2 separate regions of the Homo sapiens genome follow, and region 1 is linked to region 2. The links come from fine-mapping of genetic effects on gene expression. A gene starts in region 2. The other region holds a variant in brackets. All regions are shown on one strand. Distances are from middle to middle.

Region 1 (9,186 bases), 39 kb before region 2:
ACAAAACAGGCCACTAGGCTCTACCAATCAGCAGGATGTGGGTGGGGCCAGATAAGAGAATGAAAGCAGGCTGCCCGAGCCAGCATTGACAACCTGCTCAGATCTCCTTCCAGACTGTGGCAGCTTTTTCTTCTTCTTCTTCTTCTTCTTCTTTCTCTTTTCTTTTCTTTTCTTTTCTTCCCCCTTCTCCTTCTCTTCTTCTCTCTTTCCTCTCCCTTCCTCCCCCTCCCTTCCTCTTTTCTCTCGCTTTGCAATAAATCTTACTGTTGCTCGTTTTGGGTCTACACTGCTTTTGTGAGCTGTAACAGTCACGGTGAAGATCTGCAACTTCACTCCTAAGCACAGTGAAACCATGAGGCCACCAGGAGTGAATTAACAACTCCAGATGCGTTGCCTTAAGAACTGTAACATTCACTACGAAGGTCTGCAGCTTGCCTCCTGAGCCAGCAAGACCGTGAACCCACCAGAAAAAAAAAACTCCAAATACATCTGAACATCAATAAAGGACAGACTCCAGATGTGCCACCTTAAGTGCTATAACACATCATGAGGGTCTGCGGTTTTGTTCTTGAAGTCAGTGAGACCAAAACCCCACCAATTCCCGGTCACAAAAGGGTATAAAGTTTGAATTATGGGTTGAGCATTCTGGCTCACACCTGTAATCTCAGTACTTTGAGTGGCTGAAGTGGAAAGATAAGTTGAACACAGGTGGGGGAGGTAGCAGTGAGCTGAGATCACACCACTGCATTTCAGCCTGCGTGACAGACTACCTCAAAAAGTTTAAGGTACTCAAAGTTAACACATTTTGGAAATCTAAGGTACAGCATGGCTATGAAAGTTCATGAGAATGTATGCTTGAGATGTGCTAAGAGTAGATCCTGAATGTTCTCATCACATACACAAATGATAAGTAAATGTGGAGGATATGTTAATTTGCTTGACTATGGTGATCATTTCACAATGTATCTGTATTTATGGTTTAAATGTTTGTTCCCTCCCAAACTCATGTTGAAATTTAATTACCACTGTAACAGTATTAAGAGGTGAGACCTTTAAGAGGTGATCAGATCATGAGGGCTCTGCCCATATGAATGGATTAATGCATTTATCTGGGGAGTGGATTCCTTATAAAAGGACAATTTGGGCCTTCTTTTGTCTCTCATCCTCTCTTGCCTTCCACCTTCCACCATGGGACGAGGCAGCAAGAAGGCCTTCACCAGATGCCAGACCCTCAATCTTGGATTCCCTGCCTCCAGAACTGTGAGGAAATAAATTTCTGTTCTTTATAAATTACCTAGTCTGTGGTATTCTGTTATAGCAGCACAAAATGGACTAAGACATATATCAAAACATCACATTGTACATTGCAAATGTATACAATTTTTGTTTGTCAACTATACCTCAAGAAAGCTAGAAAAAATCAAATAGTCAAATGGATCTAAAGTGTTTCTAAGTAGCAAAAGTGCTTTACACATCTATTTTGTTACCATGTTCTATGTCATATTGAAGGTGGGCTTGCCTTTCCACCTTTGGAGTGGATCATAAAGTCCTTGAAGAATGGTCTTCCCACAGTATTCAGCACACAGGAGTACCCAAGACATTTGTGTAGAGTTCCTCTGAATTAAAGCTGATGTCAACAACACTTCAGATGTCACCAGAGGGTAGGCAGGGCTGCAGAGTCACCCACCTTCAAGGATGATGCTCCAGTCATACCCAATGTGAAAGGTGTCCCCTGGAGCCATGCAAACAAATGAGGTGGCCCCAAGAACAGGATCCTAACATCTCAGGAAGTCAGTCGGCCTTGCTTGGCCACAACTTGAGTTGCACTTAATTTTTAAACTACCATTAATCCCCCAAAACAGGTGGTGAGAAGGTATTTTATATATGAGTGTAACGGCTTTGTTCTCATTCTAAAAGAAAGCAGATGTTATTCAAATCAGATGACCACAACCAGATGACGGAAAGGGGAAGGCAAAATGTTTTAACTTATTAAAAATATAAACTTGACTCAGAATACTCACATGATTCAGCTAAAGAGAAAATCATCTCTGGTGTTTAGGCACTCATTTGCATTTAAAAACCCAAAAGGAATCATTGTGACGAATTGTTGATATTAATATTTGTATTAACTGTCTAGGGCTGCCATACATAACAAAGTACTTTAGGCTGGGCAGCTTAAACAACAGAAAGGTATTTATTGTCTCATTTCTGAGGGCTGAAAGTCTAAGATCAAGGTGTCAGTAAGGTGGGTTCCTTCTTGGGACTCAGAGGGAGAATATGTTCCAGGCCTCCCTCCTTAACTTGCAGATGGCCCTCCTCTCTCTATAGCTCTTTAGTGTTTTCCCTCTGTATGTGTCCGTGTCCAAATTAACCCTTTTATAAGGACGCCAGTCATATTGGGTGACCTAATGACCTCATTTTGCCTTAATTACCCCTGTAAAAACCCTGTCTCCAAATACAGTCACATTCCAAGATACTGGAGGTTAGGAATTTAACATATGAATTGAGGGGAGTGAAGAACAACCCAATCCAGCCCATGACAGTGTCCTAGTGTTTCAAGACAGTTTCTGCACAGATAGACATGGAGACATCGTTCTATCCTTACCTTGCTGATTTTAAGACTCCCTACCCCACACACAAGTTGCTGCTGTTGTTTATTTAATAAAACTGTGTAGATCACTTTCCTTTGAAACACTGATGCACAGCTGTGGAAGGTGGGGTATCTGGGATTACATGCCGACATCCAACCTCGCTGGACCTATCCGGCCCCAGGCATTGCACCAAGGACTGAGATACACTCGTGGATTTAATCATCCAAACACATCTCCTAGGAGGAAGGCCATACATGATCCCCCCAGGCTGAGGCTTCTTAAGGCTCCCCAAGGGGAGGTGGACTTGACACACTGAATACAGGATCACTCCCAGTTGCCCAAAGAGTTTACAGGGCAGAATTACCTTTTCATCTTTATATCCCCAGGGCCTGGGCCAAAGTCAACATTCCTACATGTTTGTTAAACTAAGCTGAACTGGAAGAAACTGCTCCAAATACCAGTGGATTCTTTGGCCGCCATGCCCTGAGCTATGTAAGGCATATGCCTCCTCCATCATTTAGTAAGAGATAACTAAAGAAATGTTTGGGCTGGGTGCAGTGGCTCACACCTGTAATCCCAACACTTTGGGAGGCCGAGGCGGGTGAATCACTTGAGGACAGGAGTTTGAGACCAGCCTGGCCAACATGGTGAAACCCCGTCTCTACTAAAAATACACAAAAAAATTAACTGGGCGTGGTGGTGCATGACTGTAATCCCAGTTACTCGGGAGGCTGAGGCAGGAGAATTGCTTGATCCCAGAAGCCGGAGGTTGCAGTGAGCCCACTCTGTCTCAAAAAAAAAAAAAAAAAAAAAAAAGAAAAGAAATCATTTGCTGATGACTATTGTTCTAAAGTTTTTTGTTTTTTGTCTCCCAGAATAATTAAAAATTGATTGCTTTTCCTTACCTAATAATTTTCTTATCTACCACATACCAATTTATATGTAGTAGAAATAGTTGTGGAAATAAATTTCTGTCCTTTATAAAGTACAATGCTGTTAACAACAGAAAACATAAAAATTAAAGACCCCACCCTCTGTCGCTTTCACCACCTAAGCAATTGTGTGTGTTGCAGGGACACCGCTGCAGCCTCTGCAAAGGACGGCCCCTCTGGCTTGGCCTGATACAATTTCTGGCAAGATTCTTTAAAGTTTTGGGGGAAAGACCCATCCTTCTTATGCCTTCATAGGAATGAGAATTGTATTCATTGCCACAATCTTTCTTGTTTCTCCATAGTCAACAACTTTTCTGAGAAATGAAAACCCTAAAAATTGTCCTGATGAGAGAGTCAGCTACCAACAATCCCAGAGTGTTGAGAAGAGAGGGCAACAGCAGCAACGGACCAGGCATAACCAAATGGAGACGGGGCAGCCTGTTGTGGGGAGGGTCAGTCGTAAAATAATCGGCCCATTTGTCCATTGTATTCCATGACCAGATTTTAAGCTCCTTGAAGATGGGATTCTGTCGTGATTTTGTGACCCCCCTCCCTTCACCTTGCAACACGTAGGATAGAACTCACTGAGCATTTGTCTCTGAAGAAGAAAGGAATCTTTCTTTCCCTCCCTCCCTTCCACTCGCTCTCCCTCCTTCCTCCCTCCCTCCCCGCTTCCCTTCCCCTCCCCTCCCCTGCACTCCCCTCCTCTCTGCTTCTCTTTCTTTCTCAGGATCTCACTCTGTCACCCAGGATGCAGTGCAGTGGTGTAACCTCAGTTGACTGCAGCCTCGACCTCCTGGGCTCAAGCAAACCTCCTACTTCAGCCTCCTGAGTAGCTGGGATTACAGGCGTGTGCCATCACGCCCGGCTAATTTTATTTATTTTTTGTAGAGACAAGGTCTCACTAGGTTGCCCAGGATGGTCTCAAACTCCTGGCCTCAAGTGATCCTCCCACATTGGCTTCCCAAATTTCTGGGATTACAGGTGTGAGCCACCAGTCCGGGCCAGAAAGGAAACTTTTTATCTGAGGAATATGAACCCCTTTAAGTCATCAGGTCCAGACAGGCATTGAAATGTGACAGTAGTCACATCTCACTCACTGCTTGAGCTATGTATGTATGTAATCTGCCTGCTATGTGGACTCTTG[A/G]CCCAATGCCACCACCAATAGCTATAAATTAACCTAACGACGGCATATGCTGGACAACATAACTTATACCCTATAGTTCAACTATAGCCAATCACTAATCAATGTTATTTCTGTAAACCAATGAGAATTCTTAACCAACAATGTTGGTAATTGCCTCCTCTCCTGATTCATCCTTTGTTCTCTGGGCACTTCCCAAGACAACTTGGAAGTGTTTCCCAAGCAGCTGTTCTCAACCCTGACCCAAATAAACTCTCATATTAATTTTGCCTCAGCTTCTTCCTGTCAGTCGACAACTCCTAACTAGCTATTTTCATCCCTTTTCAAGCTTCCTAAGAGGTTACTTTCATTTAGGTTCGTGATATAATAAAAAATATATCTGGTGTTTATCCCCAGTTCCCGGCACAGAGCTCCTAAAACCCTTGGAATTTCCTGAGTAATGCGAGTGTGTTTTGCTATTCAAAATGAGCCGCTTTAGCTACACCTGAGCTTATGCTGATGAGGCGGCTCTTGGTGATCCCCTGGGGAGGGAAGAAGGGCTGGGAATTGAGTTCAGCCACCAATGGCCAGTGAATTAATCAATAACACCTATGTAATGGAACCTCCATAAAAATCAAAAAGACCAGGTTGAGGGAGCATGTGGGTTAATGAACAGACAGGTGCTGAGAGGGTGGAGTGTCTAGAGAGGGAATGGAAGCTCTCTGCACGCACCCCCGACCCCCCTTAACTTGCTCTCTGCATCTCTTCCACTGGTTGTTTCTGCCTTTATAATAAACTGGTGATAATAATAAAGTGCTTTCTTGAGTTCTGTGAGTCATTCTAGTAAATTATTAAGCCTGAGGGAGGTTATGGGAATCCCCAAATTTGTACTTGGCCGGGCAGCAGTGTGAAGAGCCTGGGCACCCCATTTGTGACAGGTGTCTGAAGAGGGGGTAGTCTTGGGGGCTGAGCCCTCTAACTGGACGTTAAGTACTGTCAGAATTGAATTGAATTGTTGGACACCCAGTTGGTGTCAAAGAACTGATTGGTGTGAGGAAAAAAACCTCTTAAAGGTCTTTACTCCCACTTACTGGTAGTGTTGCTAAGTTCATAATGCCTTTTTCTTATCACTCATGGCTTCATTAGGCTTGACTTACTGGTCTTACTTGCCTAGATTGGTCTTGAACTCCTGGGCTCAAGCCATCTTCCTGCCTTGGCCTCCCAAAGTGCTGGGATTGCGGGTGTAAGCTACCATGCCCAGCCTCAGTGTTTTTAATACACACAATAAAACTTATTACCTTAAAAATTAAACTTCTCATGTTAGTCTAAAACAAGTTCCAAATGAGTTAATGCAAAAACACAAAATTATAAAAGCTCTAAGGAAAAAGACAAGTGAATATTTATATAATCTGAGTGTCAAGAAGACTTTCTATGCAAGACTCTGGAGGAAGAAAACAAAAAAAATACTAAAGTGGACTATTTAAATAAAAAAAGTTCTTTACTTAAAATATTAATAACACTAATATGTAAATTAAAAGCACGGGAATTATCTTGCGATATGTATATAACATTAAGAAAAATCTATTGGTAGAGAGTGCTTAAAAACTGCAAGACAAAAAAATGAATATCCCAAGGACAAAAGTAGGCAAATAAAAATAGGCTAATTCTAAAAGAAGTATGGGTGACTAATAAATGAAAATTTAAATAATGACGTGCAATTTTCCTCCCATCAAATTATCAAAGTGATATCTGTAATGGTAAAAATATAAATAGCTGGAATGTCTGTTTTTACATGATTGAATAATACATTATGGTTAAGTTACCTAATGGATCACAAGGTAGCCATTATAAATGATGCCAGAGAGATGTATTGACATTTAACAAAGCCCAGGCGATTTTCTGTTGCATGAAATATGCATAGGCACGAGAGCTCTGATTTAGCAGCTAAAAACATGAAGATCCAGAAATACTTTATTTCATGCATCTTTTCTTCTCCCAACCCTATTCTGGCTGAAATCGACTAAAATGAATACCACTGGCAACCTTGTTCGTGGGATATTGTACAAGAATGAGCTCTTAAATCAATGTGTCAGAAAATGAAGGAGACACAATGCTGAGGTGGTGTTCTGGATTAAAAGAATTTTAAGCAACATCACAATGAAATTTGATGCATAACCCTTGAATGGATTCTTGCTCAAATAAACAAGCTATAAAAGTATCTCCAAGACCGCTGGAAAATTTGAATATGGATTCAGTATGACAAACTAATTGTTCATTTTAATAAGTATGAGGTATTACGGTTACATAGGAAAATGCCCTTTTAAAAAATAAAAAATGCACATTTAGGGGTATATAAAAACGTATTTAGGGGTAAAAAGTAATGTATATAATTCACTGATTTTTTAAAATGTCCAATCCAATATTAAGTTCATCTGCCAAATGTTTCATTTTAAATGTTTCAGAATTTTTTTTTTTGAGATGGAGTCTCGCTCTGTCGCCCAGGCTGCAATGCAGTTGCGCAACCTCGGCTTACTGCAAGCTCCGCGTCCTGGGTTCACGCCATTCTCCTACCTCAGCCTCCCAGTAATTTTTAAGTTTCTATTTTTCTGTTGAGGTTTTCTATCTGTTCACTCGCTATGCCATCTACTCCTTAAATCCTTTAACATATTTCTAAGAGTTGCATTGCAGTCTTTGTTAATTTTAACATTTGTCTCACTTTCGTGTGTTTTTATTGACTTTTTCCTGGTTATGGGTCATACTTACACTACGTAGGTTTAATAACTTTTTAAAATATGCTAGACATTTCAGCATGTAGTTGAGAGTCCAGAGATCTCAGGCCTCAGGACTAGGGCTAGTATAGCCCTAGAAGATTATTCTAAACTATTATCTAATAAAAACCAAGCTTCCACAAGATCCAAACCAACCCACCAGTTGTTTCGTATACATTGTCCAGTTTACGGTTAATAACAATGGGAGGATAACTCTTGATACTTGTTACTCCACCTCGGCTGGAATTAGAAGTAACAAGTTAGGCTCTCAGCTTTGTTACCACCCGTGACATGAGGGGTTGGGCTAGGTAAGTGCATGCATCAGAATCACTCACCCGGAAATGCCCATTCTCAAAATTCCTGAAGTCTCAGATGGGGCTTGAAAATTCAGAGGTCTCACGAATCCTAACAATTCTAATATTGCCCATACAGAAAACCACTTAGAGCCAGATTTGATTCAACCCCAGAAGGTAACTAAAACCACCTGAGAAAGTTTTAAACACCAATGCTTAGGCTCCGATCTAAAATAATTAAGCTTCAGTGGAAAGTAATGTCTGAAATTTGTGGATTCTTGATCACACCTAAATTAAGCAAAAAAAGCCACAAAAACCTCACAGTGAGCGTTACAGTTCTTAAGAAAGACATAAAGACACCCAGAGCTTATTCCTTTTGACATTCAGATAGGCACAATTTTTTCTGCTAGCTAGTTCATGGCCTCATCAGCTTCAAGAGTTAACCCACAAACTTTCATGTGAAGTATTACAGCTCCTAAAAACACAGAGCCCAAGAATCAAAAAACAAAACGCACCACAGTTTAGCCTGAAGAACGTAAAAAAAAAAAATCAAAAACCCCAACACAGAAAACAAACTCAGCAGTTTGTGCTACTAGGTCAGGCAGCCTGCTTTTATTCCCTTATCTGGCCCCACCCACCTCCTGCTAATGGTCCATTTTACAGAGAGCTGATTGGTCCATTTTACAGAGAGCTGATAGGTCCATTTTACAGAAAGCTGATTAGTCCGTTTTGACAGGGTGCTGACTGGCGCATTTACAACCCTGAGCTAGACACAGTGCTGATTGGTGCATTTACAATCCTTTAGCTAGACATAAAAGTTCTCCAAGTCCTCACTCGATTAACTAGATACAGAGCACTGATTGGTGTGTTTACAAACCTTGAGCTAGACACGGAGTGTTGATTGGTCTGTTTACAAACCTTGAGCTAGACACAGAGTGCTGATTGGTGTATTTACAATCCTTTAGCTAGACATAAAGGTTCTGCAAGTCCCCACTAGATTAGCTAGACACAGAGCACAGATTGGTGCGTTTACAAAGCTTGAGCTAGACACAGGCTGCTGATTGGTGTGTTTACAAACTTTGAGCTAGACACAGAGTGCTGACTGGTATATTTATAATCCTTTAGCTAGACATAAAAGTTCTCCAAGTACCCACTGGACTCAGGAGCCTAGGTGGTTTTGTTTAGTGGATTCCGCTGCTTTGGCTGAGCTGCCTGCCAGTCCGGCACCAGGCACCTGCACTTCTCAGCCCTTGGGCAGTGGATGCTACCAGGCGCCGCGGAGCAGTGGGCGGCGCCCAGCAGGGAGGCTTGGGCGCATGCGGGAGCCCACCACCGGGGTCGGGGGGCTGGGGCATAGCGGGCTGCAGGTCCTGAGCCCTGCCCTGTGGGGAGGCCCAACGAGAATTCTAGCGCGGCGCGCTCGGACCAGCAGTGCTGGGGGGGCCAGCAGTGCTGGGGGACCCAGCACGCCCTCCGCAG
Region 2 (11,532 bases):
TGACAAACAGACAGGGAAGGCCATGAAGAGAGGGTTCTCACGCTTGAATGCCTGATAACACAACTATCACAAAGGACTCTAAAAACCTACGCTCTTGCACAAAGGCCATCACAGCCTTACACAACAAAATACTTGTGCAAGGACATCTACCCAGGAACTCCCCATCCAACCTCACACTGACATCACCTTCGTTATTGATCTTTTTGCCAAAAATAATTATTTCAAAGGAATTATGTAATCCTCTTTACTTTTTCCTTTAAAAATCTTAGTGTTATTTCACCTCCCTGAATGTGCACATAGCTTGCCATGGCATGCGTATTTTCATTGCAATGCCCTATTTCCAAATATATATATCTTTTAGAGAGCCTCTCTGTGCTTATTATTAAGGCTGGTAGCCTTTACACATAAACCCTCCCTTCTTCACACAATGAGCTGGGAAATTATTAAAATGAGTAATTCACTATTGAAAAGCGTCATCAAAGAAAAAGACAGTCATATTGAACAAAGGACAACTCCCATGATGAAGGCGTGTCCAGCGGCCTGCACTCAGGGATGGCGCTTTTCGGTTTCATCTCACGTGTATGTCTCCTCTCCTTTCCACAAAGGTCTGGGGACAAGCACTGATCTTGAATCATTTCCACAGGTTCTCTGAATGTTGGTGAGACTGAGCTGAGCAGTACCTGCACAGTGTGCAGCTGTAATGAAGCACTTGCCCTGGAATCCTTCTTGCAAATTTCTGTTGATGCCCTCCCTGAGCTGTTGGTACAGAAACAACTTGAAACAGGTATTAACCTTCCTTACCAATGAAAGTTTAGTTACAAAGTCTCTTGCTCCAAAAAAGAGGTAGTTCTTTGCAACTTATGTTTCAAATAATTTCAGTGTCATTTTCTAAAGAAAGATTCTGCGCTAGGACAAGACAGCTTGGATGGTCTTTTCCAAGGGATTAACCGAGGAAAGTTTCCCCCAAATAAATCTCGGTGGAGCAGAGTTCCTGCCTCCCTGCCCTGCCCCACTTCTTCCCCAGTGGACCCCGCCTCCCTGAAACGGCCAGTGCACACTCGGGCCCCAGTCCTGCCCTCCTTTCTCAGTGGCTCTGGAGTGTGAGTGTGAAGCTGGTGACAGAACACGCAGCCCAGGCCAGTCCCTGCTCCTGGCGGACGGGCAAGCTTACCTGGGCCATCTGGGTTGCGGTGTTTCCCTTTGCCCCTAGGAGAACCATGGCCAGGGCAGAGGAGATGCTCACAGGAGAACAGAACACGTTGTGCGAAGGGTTATCTTGACACAGTATCTTTAAAAGGCGTATGGCAAAAGTACCACTTGCATTAGAAAGAGTTTCCATGATGCAGGGCCTGGAAGGGAAGAATAAAGAGAAATGCAGTTTCCACACTCCCTGAATGTTACTGACCTACTTACTACAGGGCAATTTTGGAATCGTACTTTTTGTTTTCTTCTTAAAGTTCGTAAGTATTTTAAATTGGAGAAAAATTTATTTTCTGTTAGTCTCCGGCCAAAAATTAAGTGCAAATGTTAAGGTAATTAGCTAAGTGTGGTGATGGCAGCAGCTCAAACCAGCAATAGCAACAGAACTGGCTCGCCTGCAGAGCTCGCTCTCTCACACACACACACACACACACACACAGAGCTGGAAGCAGTGAACTCCAATTCTTTCCGTAAGGACCAGATCGTCCCATCTGAGGAGGAGAATGGGGTCAGGGAGGAGGAGGAAAATGCTGTTCTTATTCTTGCATGCATTTACAAAGAGTCCTTGTGAGATTTTCAACTGGGCACCAGCCTGTGGCCTCCCTGACATTCAGCTGATACACAAAAGACACTGAGATGCTGAATCTGACCCAGAGACAGACAGCTGTGAGGCAAGGAGCTGTCATCCATAGAGGCAAGTGAGTGCGTCCTGGACAGCCGGGGTGGAGCCAGGCTGCTCCCAGTCAGCCAGCCTGCCCCAGGCCCACGCGGCCTGACATCCCAGTAACTCCATTCAGAGCTCCTGCCCATCACCAGCTTCTGCACATCATGTGACCCTTGAACACAGAGTGGGACTTGGACAATTGTGTGGTTTTGCTTCGTTTTGTTTTGTTTTTAATGTGCTTCCTAACTCAGAAACATCTATTTGGGAGCTTTACTCATTACTCCCAGCAAAAGCCATGAGTGTAGATTGTGCGTGAGAGGAAGGATCTGATCCCTGCAGAACGCCAGAATGGAAAGGCAAGAAACAGCCCAAGGTGAGGAGTAAAACAGGCGAGAACAAGGAGGTGGTGCCTGTGAAGCCACTGGAGACCAAAGTGTGAATGTGAGGGGGTGGGTCTCTTGGCCACAGGCCTGAAACCAAATGAACCCCCACCCCCAGGCTGCAGTTCCCAGTGCACTTGGAAATGAGACCCTGACTCCTCCAGGTGAGCCTGGGAGACCTCCCTGACTCCTTTCCATCTCCCCCTCCTCCCCCACACCCATCCCCAAGGCCTGCCCTCTACGCCCACATTTCTTCCCACTTCGGATTCTGTGCCTGGTCTAATGCCCAGGCCCCCTCCCGAGCCTCTGGTCTCCCTAGAGCCACTCCCCACTGTCGGGACACCTCATCTGTGCTCCCCAAAACGCCACGCAAAGCGCTGGAGAGCCTTGGACAATGAACACAACCCACTCCCCCAGCCACCCCCACGCCACAGCCACACGGCACCTCAGAAAGCGGTGTCTTAATCCTCTTGTCCTTCCTCCTAAATCTCCCAGGGGCCCTTAGGCCCCTCAAAGGTGGCCGCTCAAAGCCACCTTGTTAAAACGGTGTCTTACCCACCTGCCCCCTCCCTTGATCCAGACTCACTGAGGTCACAGCCTCCACCTCTGGCCATCCTGAACCCCTCCCAAAGTCAACTCTTCACAAACACTGTTGGTCCCCCTTAGAAGGCCCCATGTCCATCACGGCATTAATTCCACTCACCCTCAAACACCGCGGCCCGGAGGCTCTGATTCCCACCCTGGAGGAGGTTCTCTTGACCCCGCCGGCGCGACCCTCCCCAGCACGACCCTTCCTCCCGAAGGTGATTCCTCATCTTGCTGGTGGTCCCCACAGACCGCAGGCTCTGCAGGCGAGCGCTGAGCCTGGCTCTGCAGATTCTCAGGACCCCATTCGTTTAGCTGAATTATTGAAAGAATTAAGATGGATAAGAGTGCTCAGATTTGAAACTCCGAGACTGGTGGCTTTATTTTTTTGTTGTTGTTGGTGGTGGTTTTTTTGTGTTTTTCTTTTTTTTGTTTTGAGACGAAGTCTCACTCTGTCTGCCAGGCTGGAGTGCAGTGGCGCAATCCCAGCTCACTGCAACCTCTGCCTCCCGAGTTGAAGTGATTTTCCTGCCTCAGCACATAGCTGACATTATTACAGGCGTGGGCCACCATGCCCGGCTAATTTCTGTATTTTTAGTAGAGACCGGTTTTCACCACGTTTGCCAGACTGGTCTCGAACTCCTGATCTCCAAGGATCCGACCGCCTTGGCCTCCCAAAGTGCTGGGATTACAGGCGTGAGCCACTGCGCCCGGCCGAGACTGGTGACTGTAAAGGACAGTGAAGAAGCAGGACAGACGTCATCCTGCGGATCCCAGAGCAGAGAAGAGCAGTGAGAACACAGGGCCGGCAGGTGGGGAGGAGGCTGCAGGGGAGGGCTTCGGCCAGGGAAGGGCAGCGAGGAGACATCCGGGAGGGAGGCGTCCGCGGTGGCTGTGGGCCGCCAAGGCGGAGACCGGCTGCCGCTCCCAGGCACCCCCCAGAGACCGTTGCTGACCCCACCGAGAAGGCACCGCCTCCCCGGGGCTCTTGGCTGAGCGACCTCTCCTGTCCTCCGGTCCCATCACTCGGTGGCAGCCGGTGGACCTGAAGCTCGCCACTCCCGTCCCCTACCCCAGCCGTGCGCGGGGACGCCCTCACCTGCCACCTAGTCCAGCGCTGCCGCCGTCTCCGTGCCGCGCTCCGAGCCTGGACGCCGACCCCCGAGGCGCAGGACCCGGCCCTGCTGCTGCGCTCGCCGCGGACTCCCGCTAGGGCCTCTGCAGGCACCGCTTTTATACCGCAGGGTCGGGCGCCTCCCACGCTTTCTGCGTTTAGGCGGAGCCTGGCGGGACCAGCGGGGGCGCCGCGCGTGGTGGCCGAGGTCAGAGCTGGGAGCAGGGTCAGGTCAGGGTCCCCCCAGTCCGCCCCGCCCGGGGCGATGTCCGCCAATGCTCCCGCCAGCCTGAGGCCGGCCAGGTTCCCAAGGCGCGCGCTCGGCCTCACCCACCCCCGGCGCCAGGGCCTCTTCAGGACCGGGTTCAGAACCTGACAGCCCAGAGAAGTAGGTTGGGAGCCTGCGGCGTCCAGGGCCTCCGCGCGAAGAAACAAGGCGTCTGCGGGAAAGGAGACGGAGCCTGGAACCCTGGGCTTTTGTACTTAAGGAAGCGAAGGTCGGGTGACAGCCAAGCTCCGTGTTCCAGTGGGAAGGTCCCATGGGTCTGTGTTCCACGCCTCTTGTCATGAATATGGGGGATTCACTTAGAACCAAAGCATTTGTTCCAGGTCCCACCACTAACTAGTACTAGTCCTGGGCCCAGAACCAGGCGTCCTCACTCCTAGTACCCAAGCCCTTCTCTAGCCACAGGTGTTTGGGCTGCGGTGTGGTGTAAGCAGCCCCATTTTCCCGCAAAGTGATGGGAAGAGACACTGAGTCACACGGGCTCAGGACACTCCTTGTGTCCTCTATCAGGGGGTCCAGAGGCAGGGACTCGGGGGAGTTGATGCAGCAGTTCGTGATGTCATCAGATATCCCCCCACCCCCTTCCATCTCAGGCTGGACTCAATTGGAAGCATTTCATGTTGGCACGGTGACGTCCAGAGGAAGGGAACAGACAAATGGCTCTCTCTGGAGCACGGAGCGTCGCCCAGAAGCCGTGCCCTCCTGTTTCAAATTGACCAGAATTAGAGCTTTCTCCTGAGGGCCTGAATTAGGGAGAAGCAAGGCAGGTGCCTAAGGCACAAAATTTCAGGAGGGCCACACGCATAGGTGCCAACCCTGCATTTGCGCGGCCCTGAGAATCAGAGCCTCCTTCAATTTGACACCCTAGGTGCCTAGCTTGTTTTTAAAAATAAAACCTTTATTAAAAGACAATTCACGGACCATAATATGCATCCTTTTAAAGCATACAATTCAATAGTTCTTGGTATATTGACAAAGCTGTCCAACTCTCACCACTATCTAACTCCAGAAGGTTTTCATCACCCTAAAAGGAACTGTGATACCCATTAGCAATTATTCTCCATTTCCTCCTTCCCACAACCCCTGGCTTCTGGGAGAGGCTCCGACCTCCAGATTTCTTTTCTGGCCCTGCGGATTGACCGACTGTGAAGATTTCATGCAAATTGAATCATACAATATGTGGTCTTTCCTGACTGCCTTCTTTCACTTAGCATAATGTTTTCAAGGGTCATTCTTGATGGTTCCAGGTAGCATTTGTTAGTACTTTATTTCTTTTTATAACTGAATAATACTTATAAAAATATTATAAAATCAAAAGGGAAATTAGAATGTATTTTGAAATTAATAAAAAATGAAAATAAAAACATCAAAATTTGTAGGATGTTATTAAGTCAGCTTTGGGGAAATTTTGCAGCATGAAATGCCTATATTAGGAGAGGAGAAAGGCTTCAAATCAATGACCTCAGTTTCTACCTTCAAAAACTAGAAAAAGTATAAATACATTGAACACATAATCAGTAGAAAAGAAGAAATAATAAAGATTAGAGAATAAATCAATGATATAGAAAACTTTATAATGATAGAGACAATTGATTAAACAAAAAGCTGTTATTTATTTATCCACTTATTTATTTTTTTGAGGTGGAGTCTTGCTCTATCGCCTAGGCTGGAGAACAATGGCGTGATCTTGGCTCACTGCAACCTCCACCTCCCAATTCCAGCGATTCTCCTGCCTCAGCCTCCCAAGTAGCTGGGACTATAGGCATGCATCACCATACCCAGCTAATTTTTGTATTTTTAGTAGAGATGGGGTTTCACCATGTTGGCCAGGCTGGTCACGAACTCCTGACATCAGGTGATCCTCCCGCCTCAGCCTCCCAAAGTGCTGGGATTACAGGCGTGAACCACTGTGCCTGGCCATACCCATGAATTTTAAGGCAACAAATGGGGGCATCGTTGTCAGTGCCATTGCAAGAAAGTGTCTGAGTAAACGTGGACCATGATGGCATAGTGCAAACATGTTAGCTGCCTCTGTGCTCCGAGGCCTAGAGGAAACGTCCTTTCAATCCAAATCATGTGACCAGCGATGGAAAATGGGTTTAGGAAAGGATAAAAACACAGAACTATGAAAACAAGGTTATTTTAGCTTTTCCTTTCCTTTCTCCTCTTTCCCCCACTAAAAATTGTATGGGGGGGTGGGGCATGAAATCTGTTCAGAAATAGCTAAGAATCAAGAGATTTTGCAATTACCTATATTTTTCATTTAAAATCTCTTCTACTTTATTACTTTAAGAAAGTCACAACATATCACAAAAATATTTCTTTATCTGATTGCTCATCATGGTTTTCCCAGATAGAAAATACACAGGGCCCCAGAGGAAGCATTTTTCCAGGATTTTCCAACACTGTCCGGAGGAAGGGAGTCTTTGATCCTCACACCAGGTCCAAGGATTTTTCAAAAATCACTACTTCATGATCAGACAAGCCCAAGAGAAATGACAGAATCATGTTGCTGGCCTGAAAACCTGGCAAACGTGTAAGCAGACCTCCGTCACTGAGGACCCACCCAGCAGTAACTTCCTTCCTAGCTCCAAGTTCACTGCAAATAAAGTCCCTCACCACCAATGACCCAGCCGTTGTGCGTCTCTAGACTCTTCTGCATCTTTAGCAAAGGCCACATTTTCCAGCTCTACCTGTGGGCATTTGACACACTTCCTTAAAGTCCTGCAAAGAGCAAAATATGGAGCGTGGCCCTATTCATTCTGCAAAGGTTTCCACAACTTTGAAAACATTTCCCTGCCCCCAACATGTTCCTATCATGCTTGTGACACAGTCAGGTTCCATTCTAAGACTCATGCATTCAGTTAACAAAAAATAATTCGCTTCCTGCCATGGGCTTGGCTTGGCACTTGCTGGGAACTTGGTACCAAGTTGAAGACACAATATCTGGCCCAAGAGGGCAGCAGTCTGAGGGAGAGACGGCGAGCACACTGAGGTACTTCCAAGGTGCCCTGAACACCCCTAGAATGGCCCAGCCCAACACTTAAGCTCCACAGGGACTTTCCACTAAATCTTCTGTCTCCCACACCGGACTGCGAGCCTCAGGACAGCCTAACCCTCCTTTACTAATTTTTATATTAGCACACTGTACATTTGGCCACCGGTACCTCAGGTTCCACATCCACAGATTCAACCAACTGCAGATGGAAAAATTTTTTAAAAAATCAAAAAATAATACAAAATTTAAAACAATACAGTATAACGGCTATTTGTACAGCATTTACATTGTATTAGGTATTATACATAATCTAGAGATGATTTCAAGCGTATGGGAGGATGTTACACAGGTTACATTTGCATAGGTTATATGCAAACACTACGCCATGTTATATTAGGGACTTGAGGATCCGCAGAGCTCAATGTTCGCTAGGATCCTGGAATCAATCAGATACCAAGAGACAACTGTATTTGCTGAAGCGTATTTGTTGAATGATTGAAAGGCTTCATACTGGGATTAGATGATCAAGAAATAGAGATCTGCAAGTGGGCAAACAGGGAAACGGCATTTCAGATCTGCATCATCCAGGTGGCTTGAGAGAACAGGGACCAAGGAAGGTCCCTGAAGATGGACTTGGAAGGGTCTGGAGGTTGTGTGTGTGTGTGTGTGCGCGCTCGAGTATGTGTGTCGAGGTTGTGTGTGTGTGTGTGTGTGTGTGCTCGAGTACGTGTGTCGAGGTTGTGTGTGTGTGTGCTCGAGTACGTGTGTCAAGGTTGTGTGTGCTCGAGTACGTGTGTCAAGGTTGTGTGTGTGCTCGAGTACGTGTGTCGAGGTTGTGTGTGTGTGCTCGAGTATGTGTGTCCAGGTTGTGTGTGTGTGTGTGCTCGAGTATGTGTGTCAAAGTTGTGTGTGTGTGTGCGCGCGCTCAAGTATGTGTGTCCAGGTTGTGTGTGTGTGTGCGCTCGAGTATGTGTGTCGAGGTTGTGTGTGTGTGTGTGTGTGCTCGAGTATGTGTGTCCAGGTTGTGTGTGTGTGCTCGAGTACGTGTGTCGAGGTTGTGTGTGTGCTCGAGTACGTGTGTCGATGTTGTGTGTGCTCGAGTACGTGTGTTGAGGTTGTGTGTGTGTGTGCTCGAGTACGTGTGTCGAGGTTGTGTGTGTGCGCTTGAGTACGTGTGTCGAGGTTGTGTGTGTGCTCGAGTACGTGTGTCGAGGTTGTGTGTGTGTGCTCGAGTACGTGTGTCGAGGTTGTGTGTGTGTGCTCGAGTACGTGTGTCGAGGTTGTGTGTGTGCTCGAGTACGTGTGTCGAGGTGTGTGCTCGAGTACGTGTGTCGAGGTTGTGTGTGTGTGTGCTCGAGTACGTGTCGAGGTTGTGTGTGTGTGCTCGAGTACGTGTGTCGAGGTTGTGTGTGTGTGCTCGAGTACGTGTGTCGAGGTGTGTGTGTGCTCAAGTACGTGTCGAGGTTGTGTGTGTGTGCTCGAGTACGTGTGTCGAGGTGTGTGTGTGTGCTCGAGTACGTGTGTCAAGGTTGTGTGTGTGTGTGCTCGAGTACGTGTGTCGAGGTTGTGTGTGTGTGTGCGCTCGAGTACGTGTGTCGAGGTTGTGTGTGTGTGTGTGTGTGTGCTCGAGTACGTATGTCGGGAGGGGGATAAGAAGAACACAGCAGCAGGAGATGAGCCTTGAAACGTATGTTGAGGTCAAATCGAAAAGGCCTGTATGCAAACCTTTGAAGCCCAGAGCTGACTCCCTTCCATGATCACCTGGTTTCAGCTATAATGGGCTTGGCACTAGCCTCCCATCCTCTGCCCATCTTCTTGTTCTCAAATAATCTTGGTTCTACAGAAGAGGATGTAGAGAGGAGAAGGGGCTAGGCAACGAGAAAGGTGGCAGGTGGCCCCCTGTGTCCCCAGTATTCTCCAATTATAATAGTCAAAGATCAGGCCAATGTTCAAAAATGATTCCTGGGATCGCTGGTGCTTATCCACCCAAAGGGCCCAGAATCTGCCCCAGTGGGATATAAGCCGAGAGCAGGCAACCTCCACAGGAGAGTCCCCGGCAGCAGTGATGACTGGGATGTATTTGAATCTTACAGAAGAACCCTTGGAATCCAGCCAGTCAGCAGCTCACTGATCTCAGATAACATCATCCTGCATGCTACCTGGTGTGGTGAAAAGCAAGAGAGATCAGATTGTTACTGTGTCTGTGTAGAAAGAAGTAGACATAGGAGACTCCATTCTGTGCTGTACTAAGAAAAATTCTTCTGCCTTGAGATGTTGTTGATCTATGACCTTACCCCCAACCCCGTGCTCTCTGAAACATGTGCTGTGTCAGACTCAGGGTTAAATGGATTAAGGGCTGTGCAGGATGTGCTTTGTTAAACAGATGCTTGAAGGCAGCATGCTCCTTAAGAGTCATCACCACTCCCTCATCTCAAGTATCCAGGGACACAAACACTGCGGAAGGCCGCAGGGACCTCTGCCTAGGAAAGCCAGGTATTATCCAAGGTTTCTCCCCATGGGATAGTCTGAAATATGGCTTCATGGGAAGGGAAAGACCTGACCGTCCCCCAGCCCGACACCCGTAAAGGGTCTGTGCTGAGGAGGATTAGTAAAAGAGGAAGGAATGCCTCTTGCAGTTGAGACAAGAGGAAAGCATCTGTCTCCTGCCCGTCCCTGGGCAATGGAATGTCTCGGTATAAAACCCGATTGTACGTTCCGTCTACTGAGATAGGGAAAAACTACCTTAGGGCTGGAGGTGGGACATGCGGGCAGCAATACTGCTTTGTAAAGCATTGAGATGTTTATGTGGATGCGTATCTAAAGCACAGCACTTGATTCTTTACCTTGTCTATGATGCAAAGACCTTTGTTCACGTGTTTGTCTGCTGACCCTCTCCCCACTATTGTCTTGTGACCCTGACACATCCTCCTCTCTCAGAAACACCCAGGAATGATCAATAAATACAAAGGGAACTCAGAAGCCGGCGGGATCCTCCATATGCTGAATGCTGGTCCCCTGGGTGCCCTTATTTCTTTCTCTATACTTTGTCTCCGTGTCTTTTTCTTTTCCAAGTCTCTCGTTCCACCTAACGAGAAACACCCACAGGTGTGGAGGGGCGACCCACCCCTTCAACCTGGTAGAATTTGTTTGAGCCTCATGTATTGCATTATGGAAGGGTTTTTCTGGACTGTGAGTACACGTTTAAGTAAATAAAAGCTACTCACATTTAAAGCCTCAGTTTAATGAACAGATTTTTTATTTACAAAAACTATTCTGTCAGTAATGGGGGTTTATGAGACAGAGGGAGGTTTCAGGCTGTGCTTGGAGAGAGTGCTTAAAAGGCAGTTAAGATGGTAGTGTAGAAGCTAAAGGGGGATTGTGAAGCCAGGCAGTAGCAGGGATGACTCAGAAAGGGGGCGAATGTAAGAGGCCTTGAGAGGAAACCAGTCCAGCACCCAGAGGTGAGATGGGGGAGGAGGCCCTGATGGCTGAGCCTTGTGCTGCATGCTGGAAGACGGGGTTTAAGGAGGAGACGCAGATTTGGGCGCAGGAGAATGGACATATTGAAATTGACATCAGAAGAGGGTTATCAAAAAATAAACAAGGGAGATGTAATTTAGAAGCAATATTAAAGATTAAAATTAGACCAGGCCCAGTGGCTCACACCTGTAATCCTAACACTTTGGGAGGCCAAGGCAGGTGGATCACTTGAGGTCAGGAGTTCAAGACCAGCCTGGCCAATATGGTGAAACCCCATGTCTACTAAAAATACAAAAATTAGCCAGGCGTGGTGGCATGCGCCTGTAATCCCAGCTACTCAGGAGGCTGAGGCAGGAGAATGGCTTGAACCCAGGAAATGGAGGTTGCAGTGAGCCAAGATCGCACCACTGCACTCCAGCCTGGGCAACAGACTGAGATTCTGTCTCAAAAAAAAAATAATAAATAAAAATTATAATTACACAAGTGCAATTCTAAGTACATGTGATGGCAGCAGAATTGTGTGTATTCTCTACTCTTCTGTAGTTCCTCTTTTATTTTCCTTTTCATTGATTCTGAGTACTACTTACTAAAACGTGTTTTTTTCTCCAAAGTCTGTCAGCGATTCTAAGATATATTCACTTCAATGGGAAGTGACTGGAAGTCTTGGTGAACGTCGTTATCTTTGTTTAAACAAAGTGCCTGGTAATATTAAACAGCAATGCCAACTTCGAACATTGCCCTCTTACTTCCCCTAAAGAGGGACCTCCAAATGAATCTCTACACAAAAAATTAGGTAGGGTCCTATAACGAAATGCTTTAATTGTC

What was found. PIP is the estimated chance that this variant, and not a neighbour inherited with it, causes the effect.
Region 1: its variant is fine-mapped to the expression of SERPINB9 in whole blood (TOPMed, PIP 0.95).

The regions. Positions count from the first base shown.
Region 1 is chr6:2,861,124-2,870,309 of GRCh38, forward strand. It overlaps the pseudogene SERPINB9P1. Among named protein-coding and RNA genes, the nearest start is that of MIR4645, 12 kb to the left of the region's middle. RefSeq lists enhancers at 1,582-1,911, 5,564-5,673, 5,694-5,843, 8,595-9,169. The variant A/G (reference allele first, on the strand shown) is at 4,671.
Region 2 is chr6:2,899,273-2,910,804 of GRCh38, forward strand. SERPINB9 (serpin family B member 9) reads right to left here and starts at 4,037. Exons shown (of 7, transcript NM_004155.6): 1 at 3,929-4,037; 2 at 1,172-1,349. The coding sequence starts at 1,339. It overlaps SERPINB9-AS1 (SERPINB9 antisense RNA 1), which reads left to right. Exons shown (of 5, transcript NR_110841.1): 4 at 644-784; 5 at 1,211-1,404. RefSeq lists enhancers at 3,501-4,002, 8,491-9,324, 9,325-10,158 and silencers at 3,713-3,762, 4,003-4,082, 4,183-4,232, 9,183-9,477.